2 separate regions of the Homo sapiens genome follow, and region 1 is linked to region 2. The links come from fine-mapping of genetic effects on gene expression. Tissue or cell type: blood mononuclear cells. Region 2 holds a variant in brackets; the other region holds the start of a gene. All regions are shown on one strand. Distances are from middle to middle. Region 1 holds the start of SLC7A9 (solute carrier family 7 member 9). Region 2 overlaps CEP89 (centrosomal protein 89).

Evidence for each region.
Region 1: SLC7A9 starts here. The variant in region 2 is fine-mapped to the expression of SLC7A9 in blood mononuclear cells (TOPMed, PIP above 0.99).

Annotation. Positions count from the first base shown.
Region 1 is chr19:32,865,269-32,881,063 of GRCh38, forward strand. It overlaps SLC7A9 (solute carrier family 7 member 9), which reads right to left and starts at 4,499. Exons shown (of 13, transcript NM_014270.5): 1 at 4,418-4,499; 2 at 3,180-3,377. The coding sequence starts at 3,266. CEP89 (centrosomal protein 89) reads right to left here. Exons shown (of 19, transcript NM_032816.5): 19 at 10,657-14,110. The coding sequence ends at 13,894. RefSeq lists enhancers at 2,787-3,362, 4,804-5,326, 5,327-5,849, 9,888-10,773.
Region 2 is chr19:32,890,014-32,905,808 of GRCh38, forward strand. CEP89 (centrosomal protein 89) reads right to left here. Exons shown (of 19, transcript NM_032816.5): 15 at 11,232-11,399; 16 at 9,844-9,985. Among named protein-coding and RNA genes, the nearest start is that of SLC7A9, 28 kb to the left of the region's middle. The variant C/T (reference allele first, on the strand shown) is at 6,766.

The sequences.
Region 1 (15,795 bases), 25 kb before region 2:
AACTTTCTGTGGTGCCATTTTCTTTTATCTTATTTTTATTTACTTATTTATTTAGAGTCAGATCTCTCTCTGTCACCCAGGCTGGAGCACAGAGGTGAGATCATGGCTCACTGCAGCCTCGAACTCCTGGGCTCAAACAATCCTCCCAACTCAGCCTCCCAAAGTGCTGGGATTGCAGGCGTAAGCCGCCGTGCCTGGCCCAGTGCCATTTGCTAGGATGGGAGCTTTCTGAGAACAGAACCCAGCTCAAAGAGACACCAGATGGTTCCATGCCTGTGAAGTTCAAGAACAGGTGAAACTAATCCACAGCCACAGGAATTCAGGGCTGGGGCCCTGCCTAGAAAGGGGCACGAGGGAGCTTTCTGGGGTGGTACATCTGTCAAAACTCACCAAACTCAGCACTAAAGAGCTGTACATTTCGACCAGGTGCAGTGGTTTATGCCTGTAATCCCAGCACTTTGGGAGGCCGAGGCAGGCGGATCACCTGAGGTTGGGAGTGGGAGACCAGCCTGGCCAGCATGGAGAAACCCCGTTTCTACTAAAAAATACAAAAATCAGCCAGGCATTTTGGTGCACACCTGTTCCTAGCTACTTAGGAGGCTGAGGCAGGAGAATCTCTTGAACCCATGAGGCAGAGGTTGCAGTGAGCCACTACAATCACTCCAGCCTGGGTGACAGTGAGACTGTCTCAAAAAAAAAAAAAAAAACCTGCACATTACACTGTATGTAAATTACACACCAATCAAGGAGGAAAAAAAAGTCCAACTCAAGCCCTACTCATAACACTCGTCCTCAGAAGCAGCCCCGGCCAGATCTCCAGAGCCTGAAGTTTCCAGCACCCATGTTCACCTGTCTGGGAAGAAGCTGGGCTTGGAGTCAGATCGCAGGGGATGAGGGGCTCCCAGCTGCAGGCTGCCACCCTGAGGACTCTGCACACACCAGTGGGATCCCTGGGGAGCAGCGTCTGCTTTCAGGGCCAGGGCGCACTTCCAGGACAGGGCGGGGATGGGCTCAGCTCTCCTCCTCATCTCAGCCCTGCCCAGGACTGGCAGTTTGGCTCCAGAATCCTCCCTCCTGCTGAGGGACTGCCTGGGTTCTGATGTGGGTGAGGTCTGCATTCGCCCTGAAGCTGCCTGACTGAGGAGTAGACCCAGCTCAGATTTTTGGTTTTTAGAGTCAGGGTCTCGCTCTGTCACCCAGGCTTGGAGTGCAATGGCGCGATCATGACTCACTGCAGCCTCGATCTCCTGGGCTCAAGGGATCCTCCCACCTCAGCCTCCCAAAGTGCTAAGGTTACAGGCGTGTGCCGCCACACCTGTCCCCAGCTCAGAAGACACATCTTGGGGATTTCTCAGCTGTGCTCTGTGGCCACTGGGGCCCACCAGGGTTCTAAGAGGCCCTTCCTGAGATCAGGCCTGAGACTGGCAGAGAGGGAAAGTGCTGCAGCCCATCGTCTACCTCCTGGGGGTCCCAGGCCAAGCCATTCAGGCCATTGCCAGCCCTCCGGTCAAGCCCTAAAGCCTTGGTGCCGTCCCTCCTCCATCCCCTCTGCTGCCAGGCATGGGAGCTCTCGGAGGCCCTGCCCACACCTCTGCCCTGGAAGCGGAAGCCATCCTGAGCTCACCTGGAGCTGCCTTTCCTCATCCTAGGAGCCTGAAGCCCTCCCTGCGCCTCCATGCTCAGCACCTGCTGCTCCCAACTGCCTGGGACTGGCGCAGTGTGCTGTGTTGAGCTCCTTTCTGCCTTCCCCCCAGCCCCAAGCTCCCTTTCCCTGCAGGCCCAGGGCCAGCCCCAGCTGCTCACTGCAGCCCAACTCAGAGCAGCTGTCCCTGGTAGATGCCTCTAAGACAGAACAGGCTATGCTGGGGGCAGTACTTCCCATCACTACAGCCATTCAGATATAAGGAGGACAGGCATTTAGAGGGGACTCAACCATCAGAACGCCCTCTCTGGCTGGGCACAGCGACTCACGCCTATAATCCCAGCACTTTGGGAGCCTGAGGTGGGAGGATCGCTTGAGCCCGGGAGTTCCAGACCAGCCTGGGCAACACAGCAAGATACTGACTCTACAGAAAGAATTTTTTTGAAAAGTTAAAAATTTGGCAGAGCATGGTGGTGTGCTCCTGTAGTCCCAGCTACTCAGGAGGCTGAGGCAGGAGGATTGCTTGAGTCCAGGAGGTTGACGCTGCAGTGAGCTATGATTGCACCACTGCACTCCAGCCTGGGTGACAGAGTAAGACCCTGACTCTAAAAAAATTTTTTTAAAAATTTTTAAAAAGAACGCCCTTTCTGACCATTCCTGGAAAGGCCATTAGTTTGAACAAAAATACTGGCCCGTCTAGACACTTGCTCAACACACAAAAGCACCTATTTATGAACTTAAAATAATATGCGGGCCGGGCAAGTTGGCTCATGCCTGTAATCCCAACACTTTGGGAGGCCGAGGTGGGCGGATCACTTGAGGCCAGGAATTGGAGACCAGCCTGGCCAATATGGTGAAACCTCGTCTCTACTGAAAATACAAAAATTAGCCAGGCGTAGTGGCACATGCCTGTAGTCCCAGCTACTCAGGAGCTGCTTGAACCCAGGAAGCGGAGGTTGCAGTGAGCTGAGATCATACCACTGCACTCCAGCCTGGGTGACAGAGCAAGACTCTGTCTCAAAAAAAAAAAAAAAAAAAAAAAAGAATATGCAGCCGAGTGCAGTGGCACACGCCTGTAATCCCAGCACTTTGGGAGGATCACCTGAGGCCAAGAGTCTGAGACCAGCCTGGCCAACATGGTGAAACCCTGTCTCTACTAAAAATACAAAAATTAGCCGGGTATGGTGGCGGGTGCTTGTAATCCCAGCTACTCGGGAGGCTGAGTCAGAAGAATCCCTTGAACCGGGGAGGTGAAGGTTGCATTGAGCCGAGATGGCAGCACTGCACTCTAGCCTGGGTGACAGAGCAACACTCCATCTCAAAAAAAAAAAAAAAAAAAAGAAGATGCAGAATTCCCTGGCGAGAGGGAAAGAGAAGTAAGTCCAGAGATTATCCCTTTAAAGATGTACTTCACAAATCAAAGAGTACATCTTCTGCCGTGTCACTAGGGATCGGCCCGGATTTCACTGCCTGCGCCCCTCGTTCAGACGCCCTTGCCTAACCTGCAAAGGGCCTGCCCCACCAGAGACCGCCTTACCTCCTTTTGGAGACTGGTGGTCTTAGGCTCTTGGCTCTGGATCGACTTCTCATCCTCTCTCCGCTTTCTCAGGCCAGTATCCCCCATGTTTCCTCCTGCTGGTTCCAGGAGACTGCAAGGAGGGCGCACAGCTAAATCTTGGTTCAGCAGCAGCAGACAAGACGCAAGTGCAAGCTCGGCCTGGACTAGGGGAGCTGGCTGCAAAAGCACAGTGTTGGTTATTGCTGCAGGTGGGGGCCGCTGCCAGTCCCTCAGGGCTCATGCGCTGGGCCCCAGAGTCAAAGTCAGTCATTAACATTGTCCAGGCAGGGGAACACAGCTCCCCGCTGCTCTCCAAAGCTCAGCTGCTTGCTTAGCTCTCTCCCAGACAGGCCCCGGGAGCCTCCTGGCCCACGTGCCTGTGCCTTGAAAGTCATTCTACCTCTATGGTCAACTTCATTTTTTTTCAAAAGTAAAAAGAAATATTTAACAACATCCCGGGCTGGGCACAGTGGCTCAGGTCTGTAATCCCAGCACTTTCGGAGGCCGAGGTGGGTGGATCACTTGAGCCCAGGAGTTTGAGACCAGCCTGGCTAACATGGCGAACCCCGTCTCTACTAAAAATGCAAAAAAAAAAAAAAAAAAATTAGCTGGGTGTGGTGGTGGGTGCCTGTTAATCCCAGCTACTCGGGAGGCTGAGGCAAGAGAAGCACTTGAACCCTGGAGGCAGAGGCTGCAGTGAGCCAAGATCATGCCACTGCACTCCAGCCTGGGCCACAGAGCGAGATTCTGTTTCAAAAAATATATATATAAAAAATTAAAAAATGAAAATATTGTGGAATGTATTTATCAGAATCAAGTCCAGGTAAGGAGTGTCTGTCTTATAATTCCTTCCCAAGATTAAAGGCACTCCCATACATCACAGATCCACAATACAGGTACTTTTTCTTTGTACTTTTTAAATTTTTACAATATTTTTTATAAAGACGGGAGTGTTGCTATTTGCCCCGGCTGGCCTCAAGCAGTCCTTCCACCTCGGCCTCCCAAAGGGCTGGGATTTCAGGGGTGAGCCACCACGCCTGGCCAGGTACTTTTTCATTGAGTGATGAAAGGAAAGAAAACATTGCCGAGGAAACCCAGTTCCAGACTGAACTAGGAGAAAACCATGCACTCCTGTACCCTCTCTCTAAATAAATTATCTGTCCAGGCCCCGGCCAGGAGAGCCATGAGCCTTTCTATCACCTACTGACCTTACTTACCTTCCTCCGTGACCCTGCAGAGCCGGAGGAGCTGCGGCCCAGCTGACCGCCCGTGCCTGCACGGTCCAACCCTAGAAATGGCCATGTCTTGTGCCCAGGAGCAAAGGAAGTCCAGAAGGTACAGAGGTCAATAAGGGTAATTATTAAACACCTTTTTTTTTTTTTTTGCAATGAAGCTTAGATACGCCACACAAAAAAGGGGAGGGTCAGGAACACCAATTTCTCTCCAAAACCGTTTTTGTTTTGTTCATTTGTGTCTAGGTCAGATTATTTTTTTAAAACCAGATGGTCCCAAATCGTCTACACTTTTTACCTAAAGATAAAATAAATTATGCCTTCTTTTATCTTTGGGAATCAGAGGAGATAAACTTTGGAACCAATTCGCTAATTGCCTTAATAGGCTATATTTAAAACCCAAGTCAGGCAGCTCAAACAGGAACCGCTGTGTGTGCGTAACTCAGCTGTTGGTCAGTTTCCTCCCCGCCCAGGAATTTCCCCCAAGCCAAGGGCCTGCCTCTGGCTGAGCAGGTGAGAGCGGCTGAGCCCGTCCCACTCCTCTTTACCAGTGATGGGGCTTCACCACTTGGAATCACAAGCAGGCCTGAGGCAATGCAGGGCCTCGTGTCCTCCCTGCAGCTGCGGCCAAATGCCCATCAGGTTTGGCTGTGGTGCTGTTCACGTAGCCATGTCCTGGCTCATCACAAGGGACACAAAACCTTCCCCTTCGGGGAAACGGAGGGGGACAGGCAACACAAGGCCAGGAAGCTCCGGTCCGCATCCAGGGCTGCCAGGGTCTGGATCTCTCTGGGAGGGAGCAGAGGTTCTCCCGCACTGCGATTGGACCTAGGCTCAGGCGGCAGCCTCAGGGGTCAGCACGAAGCCCTTTCAGATAGGGAAGGAAGCACCTTATGAGACCTTATGAGACAGCCTGGCACAGCATAAGCACTGCATCTGAAGCATCGTAGCTGTTACCTTCAGCCAAAACTCTGGTAGCTTTGCCTTGGGCCAAACTTAACTGCATCCCAGATATCAGATGGAAGCAAAGGTCAGGGATGGAAGGAGCTGGGCCAGTCTCTGGGGGTCAGTTTGGGAGCAGTTTGGGGCAAGCAGACCTGAGAGAGGCACAGGTTTCTCTGAAAGCCGTCTGCAGAGCACAGGGACCCTTGTTGTCCCAGAGGCACGGTCCTGATTTAGAAGTTCGTCACCTCCCATCTTGGGAGGGCCCACCTGTTTACCTGCCTGCCATGCCCAGAGCCCTGAGCAGAGAGGCTAGTGGCAGGTCCTGCCACCCTAGACAGAACCTGCCCACCGGCTTGCTGGGGTCACTCCTCCTAATGTTGCAGCACTCATCATAGTACCTGGCACATCCATGTTTGCAAAACACCACAGAATACCCCCTGGGTCAAAAGTGCTCCTGGCAGGCTGACAGGAGACCACGTGAGGACATCAGGGTGGGGCAGTGGTCCCCCGCTGGGGCCAGACAGCCCTGCAACCTCACCCACTACCCACATGGGCTCAGGCAGCACTGCCAGGATCAGGGTCTGAACCTGCGACGCAGGGCGAGCAACAGGCGCCTCCTCACGGAACACACTGAACTTGCATGTTCCATGAATGTCCGGGACCAGCCCTCTGGTCTTCCTGGGCCTCTTCCAAGTGCCGAGTCTGGAACATCGGGATGTGAGGGTCCTTTGTTAAGTCAGAAACCTCCACTTCAGTTCATTTTGGGTCCACGGTGAGCATTTCTTAAGCCTGTTTCTTAAAGTTGTGTTTTTCACCGCAGTCCCACCCTCTCCCTCCCTTGAATACACAGAAAGTATTCAAGTAATTCTCATAAGCTCTTCCTCATGGAAAATAATACGGATTTCATTTAAAAAGCAAAATTTTCCTCAGTTCTTGAAGACCATTGGTTCATTGTGTATCCAGTGCTTCTGCCATGTGACTGAAGTTTCACCTCCCTGCTGTCAATTTTTTTTTTTTTAGATGGAGCCTCACTCTGTCGCCCAGGCTGGAGTGCAGTGGCACGATCTCAGCTCACTGCAACCTCTGCCTCCTGGGTTCAAGTGATTCTCCTGTCTCAGCCTCCTGAGTAGCTGGGATTACAGGCATCCACCACCATGCCTGGCTAATTTTTGTATTTTTAGTAGAGATGGGGTTTCACCATGTTGGCCAGGTTGGTCTTGAACTCCTGACCTCAAGTGATCCACCTGCCTCGGCCTCCCAAAGCGCAAATCCTACTGTCATTTTTACCATTTTATTTATTTATTTTTGAGACTTGCTGTGTCACCCAGGCTGGAGTGCAGTGTCATGATCTCAGCTCACTGCAACCTCCGCCTCCCAGGTTCAAGCGATTCTCCTCCCTCAGCCTCCCGAGTAGCTGGTACTACATGTGTGACAATATACCCGGCTAATTTTTGTATTTTTAGTAGAGACAGGGTTTCATCATGTTGGCCAGGCTGATCTTGAACTCCTGACCTCAAGTAATCCACCCGCTTCAGCCTCCCAAAGTGCTGGGATTACAGGTGTGAGCCACCACACCCGCCCAACCACTCTATTTCTTAAGTTTCTGCTAAAGACTCTTGACCTTCATTTTCAACCCGTGCTTTTTCCCTTCCGATTGCAAAAATGCTTGCAGTGTGAAGATCTTCACACCATCTACATTTTATCTTATATTTGGTGCACATTTGATTTCAGTTGGGGAGGGTAAAATGCTTCTCTCCACCCTTTTGGGTTCTTTGGTTGGGCTTCGAATTGAGACTAATGGGAGGAAAACTGTTTTAATTATGTGTATATGCAACTGAGTCCCACAAAACAAGAGACTTGAAGAAGGGCCAGATGACTAAACCCTATATAGCATCCTGAGCTATATAAGGATTAGGGGCTTGGGGCTTCTGGGGCAGGTAGGGACTAGTAATGGGATGGTGAGGGGAGGAAATGCATGGCGAATAAAGGTCGTCTTGTTATGCAGATATAAGTCTCTCAGGTAATAAAAGTTGTCTCTTCCTGGTACAGATACTTGTACTAATGTAGATTTCCTTCATGACATACATTTCTTTTGCAAAGGGCAGCTTTTCAGAGCTACACCTGTTGTGTCTGCAGTTTCTCAGAATAACCAGCTCAAAATATTCCAAAGAAGTATAATTTGGGGTGATATATATCTAGTCTCCTACAGTCATATTTTGGGGGTGGTGTGTCCTGAGCCCCAACATTTCCTTCTCCTGTGATGGTTTGTGTCTGAGACAGGGTCTCTTGCTCCCATGCTAGAGTGCAATGGCGTGATCATGGCTCACTCCAGCCTTGACCTCTTGGGCTCAAGTGATCCTCCCATTTCAGCCTCTCAAAGTGCTGAGATTACAGGCGTAAGCCATTGCACCTGGCCTCCTGTGATGGTTTTAAAGACGTCTTTAATCCCATAGTGTCAGTCCATTTCTGCACAGCCTCTGGGCTGCCCAGCTGGGTGCCTTGTTCTCTAATTCACTGTCCTCGTGACAGAGGCAAGGTCTTGGGCAAACATTCAGGCAGAGGCTGAATCTTCCTTTACCGCTGAAAGCTTGTTCCAGACCTGCCTTCAAGTTTTCACCTTCTCCTATTCATTAAGTTCACTCGGTCTTGTATTCCTTCCCACTGCTGCTGACGGTAGCAGTTGGGGATTTGGAGGGGGACCCAAAAGACAGAAATAACTGGCATACTACCACAGATAGAAGAGTTGTTTGTTCCCTTACTACCTGAATTCCAACCAGAAGAACTTGTGATGAGTTAGCGATGTGCAAAGCCTTTCGATGTCAGGGACGTGCTGTCTAGCCATAAAACAATTAGCAAGGAAAGCATAAACATAATTTCAAAACTCTTATCTAGGAACAATCTATATATATCCAACAACTATTGGAATAGTACAATTCTGCCTTCGAACTTTGTCCATCATTTTTATGTGTTCCAAGTAATATGGTTTTGCATTAAATAACCTGCGTGGGGAAGACAGTTGCAGCATGCTGTCAAAACACGACTTCCCATCCTGCTCCCTTCCCCACCGACCTCGTCACGATTCATGGTCGCTGCCTCTTTTCTCAACCACGGTGGCCACACATGATGAAAGTTGTGATCGCTGCTGATTTTGGGGAAAGAGGGTTCTGTGTCATCAAACATCTTTAATAAAGAGTTACTATTTTGGGGGCCGGGTGCTGTGGCTGTGCGCCTGTAATCTCAGCACTTTGTGAGGCCGAGGCAGGGAGACTGTTTGAGGCCAGGAGTTTGAGACCAACCTGGGCAACATAGCGAGCGCCTGTCTTTACGAAAAGAATTTAAAAATATTATCCAGGCATGATGGTGTGCACCTATAGTCCCAGCTACTCTTGGGAGGCTGGGGCAGGAGGACTGCTTGAGTCCAGGAGTTCAAGGCTGCAGTGAGCTACGATCGTGCCACTGGACTCCAGTCTGGGTGACAGATGGAGACTCTAACATAGGAAGTTACCATTTTTTGTAATCTTGTTTCTGTCTGCCCAGCATCCACAACTTGGGGGGAACTGTCCCTTTCTGTGGGACACTGGTGGGCTACCAACCAAAAGACCTCACTTCTCTGGCCACACAGGAGGGCTCAGGATGTCAGGTCAGCCAAGAGGCCATTGTCTCCCAGGATTTGCTACCTGAGTGAAGCACAGGGTAGGCTGACGGTGTTCAACTACTGAGACCCTCACCCCAAGGCTATTCCAGCTTCTGTCCTTCTCAAAACATGGTGGAAGCCACAGAGTGTACATTTCCAAAATATTTCCTTCTTTCCCTTAACATTGGGCAGTATAGTTCTGTTGCTTGCAACCCAGCCCTGGTATGCTACATATACTACACACAGACCCTTCACTTTCAAAGAATTATTCTTTAATAAAATACTCAGGACCCTCCTGACCAGGTGAAATAGATGCTCCAGGCTCCTGATGACCCAAGGCAGCAATGCTGTCACCTCAGTGCACTCTCCCTGTCTCATCTATACCCTCTGTAGAGTGCTGACACACGGGTGGACTGTGGAACAAGGGGATGGCGGCCCAGAGCACCCAGCACAGACGCGGGGAGCCAGCCTGGGTCCTCAGTAGCAGGTGGCATGCCCAGTTCCAGGAAGCAGCCTCATGCGCTCCGTAGGTTTGAAGTCTCCATAGCCCAGCCTGGGTCCTCACTACCTCTGTCCTGTTGTTTGCAGACATTGGGCCTGCAAAGCAGCCCAGCGGGGCCCTGCAGGTGAATATCAACTACAAAAGCCGCCCTTCTTCTTTCTCTCCAAAACCCTCCTACCCAGTCCACCCCTAGTCAAAAATGAGGAAAAGAGCCGAGCCTGAGGCTGGGGATGGTGGCTCATGCCTGTAATCCCAGCACCTTGGGAGGCTGAGGTGGGCGGATCACTTGAGGTCAGGAGTTTGAGACTAGCCTGGCCAACGTGGCAAAACCCTGTCTCTACTAAAAATAAAAAAAATTAGATGGGCGTGGTGAGACACACCCTGTAATCCCAGCTATTCGGGGGGCTGAGGTGGGAGAATTGCTTGAACCTAGGAGGTGGAGGTTGCAGTGAGCCGAGATCGCACCACTGCACTCCAGCCTGGGTGACAGAGCGAGACTGTCTCAACTAAAAAAAAAAAAAAAGCCAAGCCTGGGAGGCTGGAAGGGCAGCAGGTTTCCTGCCCAGCTTTGGGGCCATGGACTCACACCTTGAGAAAACCAAGAGAGGCCTAACAAGCTGTACCCATCCCCTCTCCCACTCCTGGCTGCAGCCACTCCTTACCTGTGGACCCCTGCCCAGCTGTGACCCAGCAGAGAGGTGCCACAAACCTGGGCACACTGAGCCCTCCCCATGCCGCCCAGCCAAGTTTTGAGTGGATGATGTTTCCAGTCTTACTCAAGAATTCAGATGTCAGCCCAGCCCCATCCCAAGAGGCTCAGCCTCCTGCTGTGGGATCTGTATCCGGCTCAAGCCCTCCCTGCTGGAAGAGCTGCTTGGGCCCAGGGAGGGCTCTCCTGAGCCACCCACACTGGGGACTGTGCCTTTCATTCCCGCCAACGATACAGGTAGGGGAGGGGGTGAGGAGCCAGTGACAGCTGCGCTCGAGGCTAAATGCTAGGCCACCCTCGGCCTTAAATCTCTGTCCTCTCAACACAGTTATTGACAACACCACCAAGCATTGATGAGGATGCGGAGCAACCGGAACTTGCGCGGAGGTTGGTGGTGGGAAAGTAAAATGACACAAACACTCAGGAAGCAGGCCTGGGTGTTATTTCTTTTTTAATTGTCTATATAACAAAATCCACTGTTGTCACTGTTTTCCAGCATACAGTTCAGTGGCGTTAAGGGCATTCAGGACAGCTCTCATGACAGACTCACACCCACATGCACACCTGGTGCCCCAGCCTGCTTTGTCCACTGTCTCCATTTCCCCAGGGCTGCTTTTACTTTTTATTGTATTATTTTTGAGGCAGGGTCTCACCTGGTTGCCCAGGCTGGAGTGCAGTGGCATGATCATAGCTCACTGCAGCCTCAACCTCCCAGGCTCAAGTGATCCTCCCACCTCAGCCTCCTGAGTAGCTGAAACCATAGGCGCCATCACCATGCCCAGGGCTGCTTTTAAATAATGGCAAAGCCAGCAAGGCTCACTCGCGTGCCTGGGTCATGTTCTACAGCTGCTTGACCAGGAATCTTCCAATGCCGTATGAAACCTCACCAGGACCAAGAAAGAGAAGGGTTCCCTGCTCAGACCAGACACTTGCAGCATGGGGAAGGAGGAGCCCCTCCCAGCAGACCCAGTTCTCCTCTGTGCAGTCCGGCCTCATTTCCCACCCAAGCTCTGACCAAACCCCCTCCTGCTGCTCTGAGTGCCTGCTGTGCTCCTGGGGGCCCTCTCCACCCTTCTGTAGCTCCTGAAACCTTGTCCACTCTGCAAGGGCCGGGGCGTGCCAGTTCCTCCCAGAAGCACCCCAATGTTTCTGTCCTTTCCTGGAATCTCACAAGCACCCAGGTGCCTCTCTGCCTTGCCTGCCCCGCCCTCCTTGGCATCCTGGACTCGTGGCTTCTCTGCCCATTTCCTATGGCACCCAGCAGGAGGCTGGGCAGAAGATAGTGTCTGTGGGACACCTGCCCTTGCCCTGGTCACAGTGCCATCCAGGAGTCCCCATACTTGCAAAGTATGTTTGCACTGTGTGAAAAACTTAAAGCAGAAACATAAGAACAAAAGTGGACACTTCTCAAAAGAATAAAATGTTTGCATAAAAGGCAGAAAGACAGGGATGTCAACAGTGGTTCTCTAGGTCACGATGGCGGGAGCAGCATTCCTGCTGACAAGCACTCCTGCCCCGCGCAGCCACGCTGGGCTGCCGCCGCCTGTCAGCCTGTCTACAGGAGGCTGCAGAGCGGCCGTAAATGCCTTTGAAATAGCATCACAGTTATTTGTTAGGTCATCTCCTAGGGAGATGATACACAGTTTTCAATCCCAGTGAGTCTTTCTACCGCTTGTAAAATAAAATTAAATTACAATGATTCAACTGTTGAACAAGCTTATAGAGTCATAAAAGAACTATGATTTTCTATCTCACCCTTCCGTCTGGCAATCAAAGATCACACGTAGAACTTCTACACATGACCAAGGACCAGTACTGGGGCCTCCTTCCCACCTGAAACAAGGCAGGACTTCACTGCGAGGGGCTCTGAAAAGGAGATGCTGCAGGGTGCCACCCCTGAGTCCCACAGTTAGGGTCCTTTGTAGCCCAATGTCCCCAAGTCCCTCCAGCATGCCTGGGACTGAATGGTCCTGAGCGGCTGGGGTAATTTTCCTGAGGAGGTGGCACGTCATCTAACACACATGGGACAGAACCATGGCCCCCTGGTATGCTTCTTGGTGGTGGCAGTGGGGCAGGGACTCTATCTTAGCTCAAAGCCAGGGCTCTCATTACATGGGTGGGGAGCTGTGTGGCTCCAGAATCAATTACCTTCCCAGACCAGGCGCGGTGGCTCATACCTATAATCCCAACACTTTGGGAGGCCTAGGCAGGAGGATTGCTTGAAGCTAGACGTTTGAGACCAGCTTGGGCAACATAGCAAGACCCCATCTCTACCAAAAAAAAAATTTTTTTTTTTTGAGACAAAGTCTCGCTCTTGTTGCCCAGGCTGCCCAGGCTGGGGTATAATGGCGTGATCTTGGTTCACTGCAACCTCCGCCTTCCAGGTTCAAGCAATTCTCCTGCCTCAGCCTCCCAAGTAGCTGGGATTACAGGCACCCACCACCATGCCCAGCTAATTTTTGTATTTTTAGTAGAGATGGGGTTTCACCATGTTGGCCAGGCTGGTCTCGAACTCCTGGCCTCGGGTGATCCGCCTGCCTCGACCTCCCAAAGTGCTGGGATTACAGGAGTGAGCCACCATGGCTGGCCTACAAAAATTTTTTTTTTACAAAATTAGCCAGGCATGTTAGTGTATACCTGTCATCTCACCTACTCAGGAGGCTGGGATGGGAGGATCGCTTGAGCCTGGAGGTCAAGGCTGTGGTGATTGCACCACTGCATTCCAGCCTGGGTAACAGAGTGAGACCCTGTCTCAAAACAAACAAACAAAAGTAACAACTAAACAAAAGAGAATAAAGTACTTGCTCAGGAGGATAGAGAAGGGCTAGGGGAGAGGGCAGAAAAGGTTTGTACAACTTAGAGGGCATGAACAGCAGCAGCACCTTGTTTTTTTTGACCAAACAAGAAAAGGCCCCCAGAGCTCACGCACAGCTATCATCAGGGCCGGTGCCATGGCCTGGCTCCTCGGGTGACACTTCCCCATCTGACACATGGCACGAGGGCTCAGCTGCCCGCCCAACCCTTCCAGCACTTCCCAGCTGCAGATCTAGGAGCTGGAAGGCAGGCCTGCTCAGCAGGCCACCTACTCACCAGAGCAGTGGGTGTCATAGAACTCATCTCAGTGGCAATGTGGCCAGAGAACATGCCCTGGCTAAAACAGATTTCAGCAGCACGTTATTAAAATAAAGCACAATGGGCCAGGCGCAGTGGCTCACACGTGTCATTCCCGCACTTTGGGAGGCCAAGGCAGGAGGACAGATTGAGGCCAGGAGTTCAAGACCAGCCTGAGCAACATAGCAAGACCTCATCTCAACAAAAAAGAAAAAAATTAGCTGGGCCTGACAGTGCACACCTGAGGTCCCAGCTACTCAGGAGGCTGAAGCAGAAGGATCTCAAACATGTTTGAGGCTGCCGTGAGCTATGATTGCACCACTGTACTCCAGCATGGGCAACAGAGTGAGACCCTAGCTCTAAAAAAAAAAAAAAATTAAAAAATAAAGCAAAATGTTATCAATGGATTAAACTATGAGACCATTTATTTCTTCCCTGCCCTGCAGCGTTCAGTGGGCTTACGCACCTCCGGCTGCCACCATGGGCTGCCCTGCAGGGAAGGCCTGTGTGAGGCAGACCTTTCAGGCCAGAGGAGGCTACACCACGGGCTCCCGCAGATTCTAGCAGGTGGGGGCATGAGACTTCAGGTCATAGGAGCAGACATCGCAGCCGTCCAGCAGGTCTGCCTGAGAGACGCCATTGAGGCTGGGGGCAACCAGAGCTCTGGGGTTGTCCTGCACGCCTGTCCTCGTGAGTGTGTCCTGGAGAAGTTCTCGGATTCTTCGGTTTTCCCTGAAGGTAGATTCCCAAATAACTTCAAGTTCACCTTCCATTTCTCTGAGGGAAATAAGTTTAAAATGGCACAATTTTAAAAATAATATAGAGCCCATATGAATCCCAAAGTAGCAAGAACTCAAAACAGAAGAACGCTATCAGCAGGGAACAGAGCCCTCGGTGCCTGGGTTCTGAAGCAAGCGCTCAGTGTGGAATGAAGCAGCTGGTGCCCTGGGAATGGGGAGCAGCAGGACAGCCCAGGCTGGGGCTCAGTGTGGAATGAAGCGGCCAGTGCCCTGGGAATGGGGAGCAGCAGGACGGCACAGGCATTTCTCTTCCCTCTATGTTCTGCCCTTGACTTTGGCGCCAGTGCAATCCCTGTTTTCTCTCAAGAATGAACTTGGGCGTGTCGAATAAGGAACTGCAGGAACTGCAGGGCTGGCCTTGGCCAGCCAGACGCTCTAGCACGATGGCCTGGCCACAGGCACCCACACAGCCCCTCCTGTGTCCCGTCTGCTTGTCCACTGTGACCTGGCCAGCACTCAGTGACCTTCCACAGGTCTTCCGCTCCATACAGCCCAGAGCTAAGAGCGAGTCAGGGGGTGAGGTGGGGGACCTGAGGAGATAAGACTCATTGCCAAGATGGAGAAGATTGGCCTGGCCCATGTGCCGGGATGGGGAGGCCCTGAGGGGCCGAGGCATGTGAGGTTGGAAAGAGCCACAGGGCAGCGTTTCCAGAACCAGGATGCAGTGCCCTGTGGTGTGCTGGGGAGACAGGACAGATGAAGGTGGCCACATCCTCACAGGGCCACAGTCCACTGGGAATAGACCAGGACACGAGCCACACCTCACAAGGTGCTTAGCCCCATCGGGGAGCATGGCCAGGCTGGAGAGGCCAGCTCCTTCCCGGACACTGCCAGATGGTTCTGGAAAATGTTGGAAACTGGATTTGCAGGTGGACTTCGCACCACGGTTTAAAGAGCAGGACACTGAAGTTCAGGGAGGCCAGTGATGTGCCCACTTGGCCAGAGTCACTTTTCTTGTGAACGTTCCTTCCTTCCAAGGCCCCTGATGCCCACTGTGTGGTAAGAACAACTTAATTAAACTATGTCTAAAAAAGCCCCAGCCTGGGCAACATGTGAGACCTCATCTCTACAAAAAACTTAAAAATTAGCTGGGCCCACGTGGTGGCATGCACCTGTATTTCCAGCTACTCGGGAGGCTGAGGCAGAAGGATGACTTGAGCCCAGAAATTTGAGGCTGCAGTGAGCTGAGATTGTGCCACTGTACTTTAGCCCAGGCAACAGAGCAAGACCTTGTATTTAAAAAAAAAAAAAAAAAAAAAATTCCCCAGACTTTGGTTTTCTGAAGATATTTGGTAAATTATAGCAATCATGTTTAAATGTATGGCTGAACTCGAAAGAACAGGCAGTCTCTAAGGGCAGAAAAAATGAAGCCTAAACTGAAACCAAAGAGGCAGACAAAGTATCAGTTGCTTTGAGGACAAAAGTCAATGCCAAACCCTGGATGTTTGTAGACTGAGAGATCGTGCAGATCAAGAGTGACAGAAAATCTCAGGACCCACTCTTGTCCAAGTTTCTCTTCCTACTAGAGGCACTGTGAAGGTAGGTAAGTGGAGGATGTGAAGGACCCTCAAAGAAAGGAGGGGTGGGTGGGAGACCTGCAGATCTTCAAAGGAAACCTGTTCTGAAAGGCCAGGCATCACCTGGGGACTAGAGCCACCGGCC
Region 2 (15,795 bases):
GTCAAATTGCTTTCTGGAAGGCTCTGGAAAGGACTCAGAAGTCACCAGTAAAGTATGGCCAGACTGACCACACTCTTATCAGCAATTATTGTAATTTAAAAAACTGTTTTCAGCCGGGCACGGTGGTTCACGCCTGTAATCCCAGCACTTTGGGAGGCTGAGGTGCACAAAGTCAGGAGATCGAGACCATCCTGGCTAACATGGTGAAATCCCGTCTCTACCTAAACTACAAAAAAATTAGCCAGGTGTGGTGGCATGCGCCTATAGTCCCAGCTACTCAGGAGGCTGAGGCAGGAGAATCACTTGAACCCAGGAGGCGGAGGTTGCAGTGAGCCAAGATTGTGCCACTGCACTTCAGCCTGGGTGACACAGCGAGACTCCATCTCAAAAACCAAACAAACAAACAAACAAAAACCTGTTTTCAGGAGGAAGGCTCAGGGTGGCTGGCTGGAGGCACAGGATGTCAGACTCCTCCACACAGGAGAACCAAAACAGGAGTCAGTCATCGCACGGAGAACATCTAACGGAGACCACGGGAACTCGACAGGGGAGGGCTGGGCGGCACCCGCGCAATGAAGGAGAGGGAGACGACAGCCCAGACAGGATGGGTCTTGGTCGGGAGCCTGGAGAGGCTCCCCTGTGTCGGGAAAGGGTGAGAGATCCCCAGGGGTCCACATTCTCACCACACACTCCTGTGATCCCAGCCCCAGGGGAGCCCCTCAACCCCTGCAGGCCCTGAGACTGGTGCAGGGAGCTCCCTGGAGTCTGTGTGACCCCACTGCTCCAGAGCGGGGGCTCACGCTGGGTCCCACACTGACCCAGGTTCCAGGTAGCTGCAGCACAGTGGCATCATTTTGAGAGTCCAGCCCCCACCAGACTACATCCTGCCCTGGGACCCAGCAGCCCCTGCATCTCCACATCCCTGGAGCGCCACGGACATCTCCCCACATGCACCCGGAAGGCTGCAGCGGCGAGGCACCAGGTGGACCCAGTGGAGCAGCGGGTCCCCAGCACTCTACCCTACAGTGTCCTGCATACCCAGAAGAGTGTGGTGCAGTGCACTGAAGAGGCTGCCCATGAGAGCAAGGGAGCCGAAGCAAGTGCTCCCCAATCCTGAAACCTGCCTGGCTGGGGCCCCTGTCACTAACAGCAACCCCACCCCCTCCAGCCGCAGAGCCCTGCGCACGTGCATGTGCCCTGAAGACAGGCTTCCCCTGCCCAATGCCTCCATTGCCAAAGCAACCCAAGCACACCACCCAGGGCCTGGGGATCACCCCATCCTCTTCACCACAGCCTGCAGGGAGTGTCCCACCATGTTGGTTGCCCCAGGCACACACACAAACACACACACACACACACATACACCAATACAAAAAATTAGAATAAGTGACTGTTACACTTGATTTGCAGAAATCAATGAAAGGACATAATAAACATGACAAAGCAAGGCAATATGACACCTCCAAAGGAACATAATAATTCTCCAACAGCAGATTCCAACAACAACAAAAAGAAATTTATGAAATGCCTGAAAAAGAATTAAAAATAATGATATTAAAGAAGCTCAGTAAAATATAACAGAACACAAATAAACACTATAAAGAAATCAGAAAAACAATTCAGGATATGAATGAGGAATTCATCGAAGAGACAGATATAAAAAAGAACTAAACAGAAATCCTGGAACTGAAGAATTCAATGAATAAAATAAAAAATACAATTGAGAGCTTCAGTGATAGACTAGATCAAGCAGGAGAAAGAATTTCTTTTGCTTTTTAAATACTCAGTGAGATGAAAGAGAGAGAGAGAGAAAGAGAGAGAGAAACAGAGAGAGAGAGAGAAAAGGAGCAAAAGAAAGAGAGAAAAATTAAAAAAAAAAATGAAGCATGCCTTCTGGTGTTCCAAGGGGTGAAAAGAAGTTTAATGGCATAAAAAACCTACTCAACAAAATAAGTTGAAAACTTCCCAAGTCTAGCAAGAGATTTCGAAATCCAGATATAGGAAGCTCAGGTTCCCAAAAAGGTCTTCTCCCGACGACATTATAGTCAAACTGTCAGAAGTCAAATACAGAATTCTAAATATATATATATATATTTAGACATACATATATTTAGACATATATATTTAGACATATATATATTTAGACATACATATATTTAGACATATATATTTAGAATATATATTTAGACATATATATATATATATATATATATATATATATATATATATGTCTAGTTACATATAAGGAACTCTCATAAGACTAACAGCGTATTTCTTTCTTTTTTCTTTTTCCTTTTTTTTTCTTTTTGAGATGGAGTCTCACTCTGTTGCCCAGGCTGGAGTGCAGTGGCACTATCTCAGCTCACTGTAGCCTCTGCCTCCTGGGTTCAAGCAATTCTCTGGCCTTAGCCCCCAAAGTAGCTGGGATTACAGGCATGTGCACCACCACAACCAGCTAATTTTTGCATTTTTAGTGGAGATAGGGTTTCGCCATGTTGGCCGGGCTGGTCTTGAACTCCTGACCTCAGATGATCTGCCTGCCTCAGCCTCCCAAAGTGCTGGGATTACAGGTGTGAGCCACTGTGCCCAGCTAATAGTGTATTTCTCAGAAGAAACCTTACAGGCCAGGAGAGAATGAGACGATATATTCAAAGGGCTAAAAGAAAAAAAAAAAAAAAAAACCTGTCAGCCAGCCAAGAATACTATACCCAGCAAAGTTATCCTTCATAAATGAAGGAGTAAAGACTTACAGATAAGCAAACACTGAGAGAATCTGTCACCACTAGACCCATCCTACATGAAATGCTTAAGGGAATCCTACACCTGGAATTGAAAGGACGATATCTACTATCATGAAAACACATGAAATGATAAAACTAACTAGTAGAGCAAGCACACAAATGAGGAAGAGAAGGAACTCAAATGTTATCACTATAGAATAATAAGATAAATAAGAGGAAAAATGATACACAAAACAACCAGAAAACAATCAACAAAATGATAGGAGTAAGTCCTCGCATATCAATAGTAACCTTGAATGTAAATTAATTAAATTTTCCACTTAAAAGATACAGACTGGCTGAATGGATATCAGAAAAAAAAAACACGATTCAACTATGTGCTGCCTACAAGAAACACATTTCACTTGTAAAGATCCATACAGACTGAAAGTAAAGGGATAAAAAAATATTCCATGCAACTGGAAACCAAAAGCAAGCAGGAGTAGCTATACTTGCATGAAATAAAACAAACTTTAAGTCAAAAACTGCGTAAAGAAGGTAATATTATAATAATAAAGGGATAAATTCAATAAGAGGACATATACTCTAAACATATATGCACCCAACACCACAGCATCCAGGTATATAAAGCAAATATTATTAGATCTAAAAGGGGAGATAGACTACAATACAATAATAGTTGGGGACTTCAACACCCTACTCTCAGCAATCAGATCATCAAGACAGAAAACTAACAAAGAAACATTGAATTTAACTGCACTTTAGACAAAATGACCTAATAGACATTTACAAAACATTTCATCCAGTAACGGCAGAATACACATTCTTATCAGATATAGAACATTGTCTAGCATACACTGTGTGTTACGCTACAAAGCAAGCTCAACAAATTTAAAAATACTGACATCATGTCAAGTATCTTCTCAGACCATGGTAGACTAAAACTAGAAAGCAATAACAAGAGGAACTTTGGAAACTGTACAAACATATGAAAATTAAACAACATGTTCCTTAACAATGATTGGGTCAATGAAGAAATTAAGAAGGGTATCAAAAATTTCTTGAAACAAATGAAAACTGAAACACAACATACCAAACACAACATACCAAAACCTATGGGATACAGCAAAAGCAATGCTAAGAGGGAAGTTTATAGCAATAAATGCCTGCATCACAAAAGTGGAAAGATTTCAAATAAACAACCTAATGATGTACCTCAAGGAACTAGATAAACAAGAACAAACAGAACCCAAAATTAGTAGAAAGAAAGAAAAAACAAAGATCAGAGCAGAACTAAGTGAGGCAGGGTGAAACGTTCTTATAGTCCCAGTGACGCAGGAGGCAGGAGGATTGCTTGAATCCAGATGTTCAAGGTTAGCCTGGGCAACATAGTGAAAATCCACTGCTAACAAACTGAAAACCTAGAGAAAATGGATACATTTCTGGACAACATACAACCTACAGAGGCAGGATAAGTAAAGTTATGAGACCATACTGACTTGTCCCCTTTAGTGAAGCCCCACATGCTCCTTTCTCAGTGGGCTCCTTTCATGTGCGCCCTTGTATGTCAGCACCTAACTTATCTTAGCAAGATAAGTAGTCCCACAGGATCCCAGCCAACTACCAGGTGGTTACACGTTCCTGATACCCAATATGGCCTAGGAAAAAGAACAAAAATCCCTTAATCGTAATGTAGCTTCCCCAATCTCCAGCCAATCAACACCAAAAGCCCAAGAAGCTATTAACTACCAATTCCTGCCTGGGCAGGGCTAAAGATATCTCCAGGGTCCTGCATGTACAGCTAGGCACAAGGTTTAGCTTACAGTGAGCTTTTCCTCATTTTAATAGTAAAAAACACACCCTAGGTGGAGGTTTTATATGCTAATTATACATGTGATACATGTTAGAGCATGTACATGCTGAGTGCATGCACCAACCATAGTTCCACCTTTCACACTTGACCTCACCAATACTTTATGAATATGCATGCACAGCTCCTGTAAAGGGCATCCCCTTAAAATATTAGGGTCTGTCTCTTACTCTGTCTCTCAGAGTGACTTCTGCTATGCAATAGACTTCTTCACCTGCTCTTACTTTGGACTAGCTCTCAAATTCTTTTGTGAAGTCAAGAACCTGAACTGGCCCATTGACAACACTACCAAGATTGAATTAGGAAGAAATAGAAAACTTGAACAGACCATTAACAAATAATGAGATTGAATCATTAATAAAAAGTTTCCCAACAAAGAAAAGTCCAGGACCAGATGGTTTTTCTGCCAAATTCTACAAACCTTACAAAGAAGAACTAATACAAATTCTCCTCAAACTATTCCAAAAAAATTTAAGAGGAAGGAATTCTCTCTAATTCTTTCAGGCCAGCAATACCCTGCTACCAAAACCAGACAAGGCCACAATAAAAAAAGAAACCTACAGGCCAATATCCCTAATGAACACAGATGCAAAATCCTCAACAAAATACTAGCAAACCAAATTCAACAGTACATCAAAAAAATAATATGCCATGATCAAGTGGGATCAAGAGATGCAAAGACAGTTCAACATACACAAATCAATAAACATCATAGATCACATCAGCAGAATGAAGGATAAAAACCATATGAGCACACCAATGGAAACAGAAAAAAATTGGATAAAAATTCAACATCCTTCGTGATAAAAACACTTAATAAACTAGACATAGAAGGAACATACCTAACATAATAAAGGCCATATATGACAAACCCACAGCTAACATCATACCGAGTAGGGGAAAGCAAAAAGCCTTTCCTCTCAGAACTGAAACTAGTTAAGGATGACTACTTTCACCACTCTTATTCAGCACAGTACTGGAAGTCCTAGCAAGAGCAGTCAGGCAAGAGAAAGAAATAAAAGTCATCCAAATTAGAAAAGAGAAAGTCAAATTTTTTCTCTTTGCCAATGACATGATCTTATATTTAGAAAAAACTAGACTTCACCAAACGACTCTTAGATCTGATAAAAAAAAAAAAAGTTTAGTAAAGTTGCAGAATACAAAATCAATGTATAAAGATCAGTAGTGTTTCTATACACCAATAATGAATTCCCTGAAAAAGAAATCAAGAAAGCAATCCCATTTACAATAGCTACAAAAAAATACCTAGAAATAAATTTAACCAAAGAAGTTAAAGATTTCTACAAGGAAAGCTACAAACACTGATGAAAGACAATGAAGCTGATTCAAACTAATGGAAAGACATCCCATGATCATGGATGCGAAGAATTAACATCATTAAAATGACCAGACTCCCCAAAGCAATCAGCAGATTCAGTGCAATCCCTATCAGAACATCAATGACGTTTTTCACAGAAATAGAATAAACAATCCTACTTTATACATATGGAACCAAAAAGGAGCCTGAAAAGGCAAATCAGTCCTGAGCAAAAAGAACAAAGCTGAAGGTATTACCCTACCTAACTTCAAAATACATTACAAGGCTATAGTAACCAAAATAGCACAGTATCAGTACAAAATCAGACACATTGGCCAGTGGAACAGAATAAAGCACCAAGAAACGAGCCCACATATTTACTGCCAACTGCTTTTCAACAAAGGCACCAAGAACATACGCTGGGGAAAGGGCACCCTCTTCAATACATGGTGCTGGGAAAATTGGATATCCATATACAGAAAAATGAAATTAGATCTCTATTTCTCATCATATGCAAAAAATCCACTCACAATGGTTTAAAGACTTAAATCTAAGACCTGAAACTATAAAACTACTAGAAGAAAACATAGAGGAAGCACTCTAGGACTTTAGACAAAAATTTCATGGCTAAGACCCCAAAAGCACAGGCAACAAAAACAAAAATAGACAAATGGAACTATATTAAACTAAAAAGCTTCTGTACAGCAAAGGAAACAATCAATAGAATGAAGAGACAACCTGTTGAATGAGACAAAATATTTGCAAAATATTCATTCAACAAGAGGCTAATACCCAGGATATACAAGGAACTCAGTTCTCTCTGTCTCTCTCTCTCT[C/T]TTTTTTTTTTTAAGGAACACAACTCTTAATAGCAAACAAACAAACAAACAAAACCAATCCCATTAAAAAGTGGGCAAAGAATCTAAATAGACATTCCCCAAAAGCAGACATACAAATGGGCAACAGGCATATGAAAAAAATGCTCAACACCACAAATCATCACAGAAATGCAAATCAAAACCACAATGAGATATCATCTTACTCCAGTTAGAATGGCTATCATTAAAAAGACAAAAAATAACAGAGGCTGATGTCAACCTAAAATAATCAAAAGGGTGAGACTCTAGTTTAAAGAGAGTTTATTCAAGCACAAAGTTTGAGGACAGGCCACCCAGGAAGTAGATTCCAAAGAACAGAAGTCTGTGTTCTGAAGTGCACAAGTTTGGGATCGCTAATAGGACCACATGTAGGAAAGCTTAACAGAATTTCAGTGTCTTTCTATGTAAGACTGAATGCATAGTTACAACAATCTAATTAGTTGAGGCAGTCTTTTTCTTTCAGGAAAGGTATATTTAACATTCCACATTGAAGATATAACAGTCATGGGGTCATGGGTGCCATCTGGTCTTAGGTAGAAGAACAATAAAGGAAGCAAGCAGTTCATCTTTATAGATAGATGAGTGACTGGAAGGAGGAGAAGGTCTGGTCTCTGGTTTCTCCTAGTCATTTACAAAACAACAGCAATGAGGAAGAGAACTAACCTATAAGAAGCAGAATAGCCAACAAGCTACATTGCTCAGTCTCCAGGGCTTAACTTCCCCCTTTGCATAATACATTTAGAGGGTCCTGAAATTTTTTTTCTTTTCTTTTTTAAAATTGAGACAGGGTCTTGTTCTATCACCCAGGCTGGAGTACAGTGGAATGATCGACCTCCTAGGCTTAAGTGATCCTCCTTCCTCAGCCTCCTGAGTAGCTGAAACCACAGGCATGCACCACTATGCCTGGCTAAGTTTTTCGTTATTTGTAGAGACAGGTTCTCCCTATCTTGCCCATGCTGGTCTCAAACTCCTGGACCCAAGTGATCCTCCCACCTCAGTTTCTCAAAGTACTGGAATTACAGGAGTGAGCCACCATGCCTGGCCTGAAATTTTACTTTATTTTATTACACTGATGAGGATGTGGAGAAAAGGGAACTTTCATACACTGTTGGTGGGAATGTAAATTAGTACAGCCATTATGGAAAACAGTGTGGAGGTTCCTCAACAAACTAAAAACAATTACCATATGATCCAGCAATCCAACTGCTGGGTATTTATTCACAGGCAAGGAAATCAGTATATCAAAGGGATATCTACACCCCCATGTTTATTGCTGCACAATTCACAGTAGCAAAGATATGAAATGAACCTAAGTGTCCATCAATGGACAAACAGATAAAGAAAATATGCTCTATTTACACAATGAAATATTATTTGGCCATATAAAAGAACAAAACCATGTCATCTACAGCAACATGGATGGAACTGGAGGCCATTACGTTAAGTAAAATAAGCCAGACCTAGAAAGATAAATATGGCATGTACTCATTCATATGTGGGGGCTAAAAAAGTTGACCTCATGGAGGTGGAGATTATAATGATAGCTACCAGAGGCTAGGATGCATGTGGGTATGGGTGTGTTTGTGGGGGGCTGGGGGGCAGGTGGCTGAATGAAGAGAGGTTGCTTAATAGGTATAAGCATACAGTTAGATAGACGAAATAAGTTATCATGTTCGACAGCAGAGTAGGTTGACTAAAGTTAACAACAAAGTATTGTATATTTCAATATAGCTAGCAATGAGGACTTGAAATATTCTCCACACCCAGAAATGATAAATGCTCAGCTGGGTGTGGTGGCTCACACCTGTAATCCCAGCACTCTGGGAGGCCGAGGTGGGCAGATCTCTTGAGGCCAGGAATTCAAGACCAGCCTGGCCAATGTGGCAAAACCTTGTCTCTAGTAAAAATACAAAACCTAGCCAGGTGTGGTGGCATGCACCTGTAGTCCCAGCTACTCGGGAGGCTGAGGCACAAAAATGTCTTGAACCCAGGAAGCGGAGGTTGCAGTGAGCCGAGATCACGCCACTGCACTCCAGCCTGGGTGACAGCGTGAGACTCCATCTTAAAAAAAAAAAAAAAAAAAAGATAAATGCTTGTGGTGATGGATAGCCCAAATACCTGACTTAATTGTTACACATTCTATGCACATTACAAAATATCACATGTACCCCCACATGTGCATGTAAATATATTTAAAATATTTTTTAAAATGTAAAAATATTATGCATTAATAAAAAGATACAATTGTTTAAAAAGAAAAAAATGTTTTGTAACATTTTTTGAGAATGGTATCTCAAGACTGGTTTAATTAGCATTTTTTTTTTTTTTTTAGGGACAGGGTCTTTCTCTGTCTACCAGGCTGCAGTGCAGTAGTACAGTCATAGCTCACTGCAGCCTTCAACTCCCACACTCAAATGAACCTCCTACCTGAGTTTCCTGAGTAGCTGAGACTACAGGTGCATGCCACCATGCCTGGCTAATTTTTAAATTTTTTTTTGTAGAGATGGGTTCTCACTATGTTACCCAGACTGGTCTTGAATTCCTGGGCTCAAATGATCCTCCTGCCTCAGCTTCCTGAGTAGCTGGGACTACAGGCACACAGCACCATGCCAGGGTAATACAGTTGAAATTTTAAAATACAGATGGTTCTAGACTTACAACAGGGCTACATCCTGATAAACCCATCATAAATTGAACAAACTGTATATCAAAAATGCATTTAATCCTGGCAATACAGCAGATGGTTCCCAACTTATGATGGTTCAATCTACATTTTTTAAGCTTTATAATGGTGTAAAAGCAATGGGCATTCAGTATCAATGGTAACTTCATTATGAGTTGTAAGGAGTTCCTCAATTTATAATAAGATTACTTCCCAATAAATACATCATAAAGTCGAAAATTCCTAGGTGGAACCATCCATCGTAAGTCAGGGAATGCCTGGATAAAGCTTTTAATAGATCATTTTTTAAAATACTCTTAAAATCACATTTGCATATTAACTCGCAGTTTACTTGATGTAACCTTCAGGAAACTTACCAAACACATAAGACTGTCACGTTCCTGGGTTATGTTTTCTGCCAGGCCAACAAGGTTTGCCAGGTACTGATGAGCAGACATTTCGTTCCCCATGGCTTTTTCCACCTGCTTTTTGAGGACCTCAATTTTCTTTTGAGATTTCCTAGAGAGTTACCCCAAATGGTAGAATAAAAAGCCCATTAGTTTACATGGCTAGGGCATGGTGAATATCTGTATTACAAAAACAGCAAGTATGTTAGCATTTAAATGCTATTCTTCAGCAACCTAAATCTTCTATTAAGTTTCAAGGTGAGAAGAGGTAACTGAATTTAATTTGAAACCAAGCATAATTAGTGACCCCAACTCAAGTGAATAAGAGGAGTTGCAAATGTCTAACAATGAATAGGTTCATTTTTTTTTTTTTTTTTGAGACACAGTCTTGCTCTGTCACCCAGGCTGGAGTGCGGTGGCATGATCATGGCTCACTGTAACCTCCGCCTCTCAGGTTCAAGTGATTCTCATGCCTCAGCCTCCTGAGTAGTTGGGATTAGAGGCATGCGCCACCACACGCAGCTAATTTTCTGTATATATACATATATATATTTTTTTAAGTAGCCAGGGCTTCTCTATGTTGGCCAGGCTGGTCTTGAACTCCTGACCTCAAGTGACCTGCCCATCTCAGCCTTACAAAGTGCTGGGATTACAGGTGTGAGCCACCACACCTGGCCCATAGGCTCATTAAGTATTATTCTATTAACTTTCTGGCTTATGTTCTAAAAGGCACTTTCGAAAAAAAGATCCAGAAATTCCAAAGTAGACTTTTAGGAAATGGTTAGAAAAGAGCTCCTAGAACTTTGAATCTTAGGGTTATCAATATGACCATCAACCATATTTCAATTATAGACTTTAGAAATGTTGGTTAACATTGGTTAACAGCAACAATACTTATTATAATCTGATATCCAGTAATTTCAATTACCCTTTTCCATTTTATAGCCACTATTAGAAAAAGAAAAGATTAAAAGAAATGAAATGGAATATTCTTCATTTGTCTTTTTTTTTTTTTTTGAGACAGGGTCTCACTCTGTTGCCCAGGCTGGAGTGCAGTGGCGTGATCTCGGCTCACCGCAACCTCTGCCTCCCAGGCTCAAATGATTCTCCTGCCTCAGCCTCCCGAGTAGCTGGGACTACAGGTGCGTGCCACTACCGCCTGGCTAATTTTTGTATTTTTAGTAGAGACGGGGTTTTGCCATGTTGGCCAGGCTGGTCTTGAACTTCTGACCTCAAATGATCGCCTGCCTCAGCCTCCCAAAGTGCTGGGATTACAGGAGTGAGCCACTGTACCCAGACCATTTGTCTTTTTTAACTATTGAAAATAAAAGCAACTTAAAGGAAAAAAAGACACAAACCTATTGATTTTCTGTGCTCGTTCAAGTTCGGCTTCCAGTGCTTTGTTTTGCTCTGTCAAACTGTTCTTCTCTAACAGCAGGCTCTTCTTCTGCGCTTGCAGGACTGTCAGCTTCTCCATCAACTCCTCCATCTCAGCCCTTTCTTTCTCTTCTTCCTTCTGTAATTGGCTGAAGGACAAAAACATTACATGCTCGTATCCAGCACAATGAAGCTAAAATGGGGCAGTCACATAACGAGGAAGATGAGTGATAACAGCCCAGCCCTCCAGCCCCTGGGTGGGTCACTTGGAATGCCTCTGTGGAAACATCTCCCCATCCTGGGCCCTAGAGGACCTGGGACCAAGCTGCTAGACCACCGGAGAGAGGGTGTGGCTGGGCACACACTACGTGTGTGTCTGTGTGAGACAGGGTCTCACTCTGTTGCCCAGGCTGGAGTGCAGTGGCACAATCATGGCTCACTGCAGCTTCGAACTTCTGGACTCAAGCAATCCTCCTACCTCAGCCTCCCAAGTTGCTGGGACCACAGGCACACATGATACCTGGCTAATTTTTGTATTTTTTGTAAAGATGAAGTCTCACTATGTTGCCCAGGCTGGTTTCGAGCTCTTGGGCTCAAGTGATCCTCCTGCCTTAGCTTTCCAAAGAGCTCGGATTACAGGCATGAGCCACCACACCTGGCCACAAACTTCTTTGATGGTGATGATCTAACCTCTTTTTCTCCCACAGTTTTGGCTTATGTCTCTGTCTCTCTGTCTCTCTCTCTCTCTGTGTGTGTGTGTGTGTGTGTGTGTGTGTGTGTGTATGTGTGTGTATACCCTATTCCTTCCAAAAAATCTAAGATAGCTCTATTTTTTACATGGTTATAAATGCCAGATTTATTTAAAAAAAACCTGCTAAAACAATTTTTCCATAATAATGTAATTATAAATACATGTTTTTAAGACAAAAGAAACAAAGAACAAAGGGGCACTTATTTTGCTGAACACCAGCTTGGGTGTTACCGAATTTGCATAGAGAGTAACTTGGGATAGGGGCTGCATCCTTTACCAGCGCAGCAGGAATACACAACAATATATGATTTTAAGGTTTGTCAACTGTAACTGTAAAACATACAAAATCCAAGATTCATTTATTTCACTGAAAACTTATTTAACTATTATTTTATTGGATAAATTGTTGAACTGGATTAACGATAAAAGGTTAAAGAAGAATGTTGAAAATACCAAGACTTCTGCTTTCAGCCAAGATAGAGTTACAGAGACCAGATTTACTCCTCAGCTAAAAAACCAGGCAAAACAGAAGAAACAACAGTTTTCGGACTTTGGACAACAGGCGAGGCAGGACTGTGATCCCAAAGGGAAGGGAAAACAAGGTGAGTGCTGCAACTGCTCCCTCCACCTTCTTGTCTGGCAGACACCTGCTGAGCCCAGGAGCCAGAGATCCAAGAGCAGGAAGGTCAAGGCAGCTGGAATTTCCAGGGCAGGGCAGAGGGCGTTTCACGGAGCGAGAAAGGGCTCTAGAGACCTTGAAGGGTCTTTGGCTGGGTACTGATCTGTCCGTGTGTGAGAGGAAACTGCGTAAAGCCTAGGAAAGAAACACTACAAACAGTAGGCAGAACAATTTCTGACATGCACAAAGAACAGGAAATAGTTCATACCCCACCAGTCAGAATGGAAAGGCCTTATAATAAAAGAGATATTGGATAGAATCCTTAGAAGAGTGTTACTGTCTTAGCAGTGGGGCTAACTTAGCCCTAAGACTAGAGGTTGCTTTGGGCCCACCCTAACAAAAATCAGCTTTGAAAGAATCCAGCTTAGCCACATGCGGTGGCTCACACCTGTAATCCCAGCACTTTGGGAGGCTGAGGTGGGAGGATCCCTTGAGCCCAGGACCTCAAAACCAGCCTGGGCAACATAACAAGACCCTGTTTCTACAAAAAGAAAAAAAAAAAGAAAACAGAAAAGAAAGTAAACAAATAAATAAATAATCCAACAATTCTCTAGTGGCTTAAGTGTGCACCAGAATGAAATCTAACACTATTTAAAGCAATGCAATATGTCTAACATCCTGTAACATAAAATCTACACCATCCAGCACCCAATCAAGCATGAGAATAAGCAATAAAATATGATCCATGATCAGGAGGGGAAAAAATCAACAGAACAGATTCAGAAGTGAGAGAGATGATGGCGTTGGCAAACAAAGGTTTTTAGAAAAACATGCTCCTACATTTGAGAAAGAAGAGAAAAATAGCATGCTGGGGACAGAGACGGAGAATACAAAAAAGACTCAAATGGATCTTTCTTACAGAGATGGGAAAAATCATTACACAAAGTGAACAATATATTGGATGGGACTAACAGCAGATTAGATTGTAGAAGGATAGATTTGTGAAGTTGAAGAGAGATAGTAATAGACACTGTCTGATTGAAGCCCAGAGAGAAACAAGTGTGGGCTAAAAGTGAACAGAACAGTCAACAGGACAACATCAAGCAGTCCAGGAGAGGTGAGAGGGAAAAACAGAAGAGACCGTTCAAGAAATAATAGCCAAAAGATTTCCAAACTTGATGAAAAATACACACTGATAGCCCCAAGAAGCTTAATGAACTTCATGTAGAGTAAAGAAACCATGCTGGCCGGGTGTGGGGTCCCCCACTGTAATCCCAGCACTTTGGAAGGCCAAGGCAGGAGGCTCCCTCAAGGCCAGGAGTTTGAGACCAGCCTGGGCAACGTAACAAGACTCTGTCTCTACAAAAGATTTAAAAATTAGCCGGGAGCAGTGGCACATGCCTGTAGTCCCAGCTACTCGAGAGGCTGAGGCAGGAGGATCACTTGAGCCCAGGAGGTCAAGGCTGGAGCAAGCAGTGATTGCACCACTGCACTCCAGCCTGTCCAACAGAGCCAGACCCTGTGCAAAAAAGGGTCTGAAAGAAAGAAAGAAACCATGCTAAGGCATATCCCAATTAAAATGCTGAAAAACAGTGACAATGAAAAATTCTTAAAAGAAGCCTCAGAGAAAACACACGTTATCTTCAGAAGAATACAGATAACCGTGACAGCAGATTTTCATCATAAACGACGCAAGCCAAAAGACTATCAACAGCCAGCATCTTTAAAACTGAATGGAAAAAAACCCACAAACTACCAAAAACCTGTCAGCTTGGAATTCTTCACCCAGTGAAATCATGTAATCAATAAAGTTTCATAATTTTCCCAACGGAAGTACTGTAAATCTTTCCACATCTATTTGTGAAGCTTTGTCGATGGTTCCTTCCTTTTAATTAAAAAAATTTTTTCTCATGATGATAGCCTATCATTACCTTAGTTTTCAAAATATCATTTTCTTTCTTCCTTTTTTTTTTTTTTGAGATGGAGTCTCACTCTGTCACCAGGCTGGAATGCAGTGGCGCCACCTCCACTCACTGCAACCTCCGCCTCCCAGGTTCAAGCGGTTCTCCTGCCTCAGCCTCCCAAGTAGCTGGGACTACAGGCATGCGCCATCACACCCAGCGAATTTTTGTATTTTTAGTAGAGATGGGGTTTCACCCTGTTAGCCAGGATGGTCTCGATCTCTTGACTTCATGATCCACCTGCCTCAGCCTCCCAAAGTGCTGGGATTACAGGTGTAAGCCACCAGGCCTGGCCCAAAATACCATTTTCTACACATTTTTTTCCTACAAAGAAATACAATTAATTTTTATAAATTTTCTGTTTTGAACAATTTTGCTAAAACCTCTTATTTTTAATGATTTGTAGATTTGTTTTCTACAGATAGAATTATGTCATTTATGAATAATGACACTATTGTTTTCCCTTTTCCCAAACCTTCTAAGTTTTTCATGCCACGTGTGTCAGTTACCACTTGGTAGCCAGTGCTGTTAATGTTGTCAGAAATGGTGTCAGAGGGCAACCTTGTATTGTTTCCAATCTCAATAGGAAAGCTTTCAACATTTCCCTATTTGGTGTGATCTTTATTGTAGCTGTATTTTTTAATAGAACTTTAGAATGTTAGAATTTAATAGAAGTTTTACATCTACATTCATAAGTGAAATGAAAAGTAATTTTCCTTTCTTATATGATCACTGTTGGGTTTTGGTATCAAGGTTATACTAACCTCATTAGATTAAGGAGCATTAATTCTTTTTCTGTTTCTAGAAAGGTTTATGTAAGACTGAAATTATTTCTTCCTTGAATATTTGTAGAGCTCTCTAGTGAAGGTATCCAGGCCTGGAGTTTTCAAAGGAAGATTTTTTTTTTTAATTCAATTCTTTTAATGATTATAGGACTATTCAGGTATTCTTCTTCTTCTTGAGTCAGTTTTAAGGTAAGCTTTTCAAAGAATTTGACTATTTCATCTAAATTTTCAAATGTATTGACATAAATTATTTCTAGGTGCACACAAATTTAAATTTGTGTGAATTCTACTTGGTAAATTGAGCCTTTTATCTTTGTGAATCATCCTCTTTGCTTAGTATTGTTGTCTGTTCTGTTTGAGACAGGGTCTCACTCTGTTGCCCAGGCTAGAGTACAGTGGTGCAATCACTGCTCAGTGCAGCTTCAAACT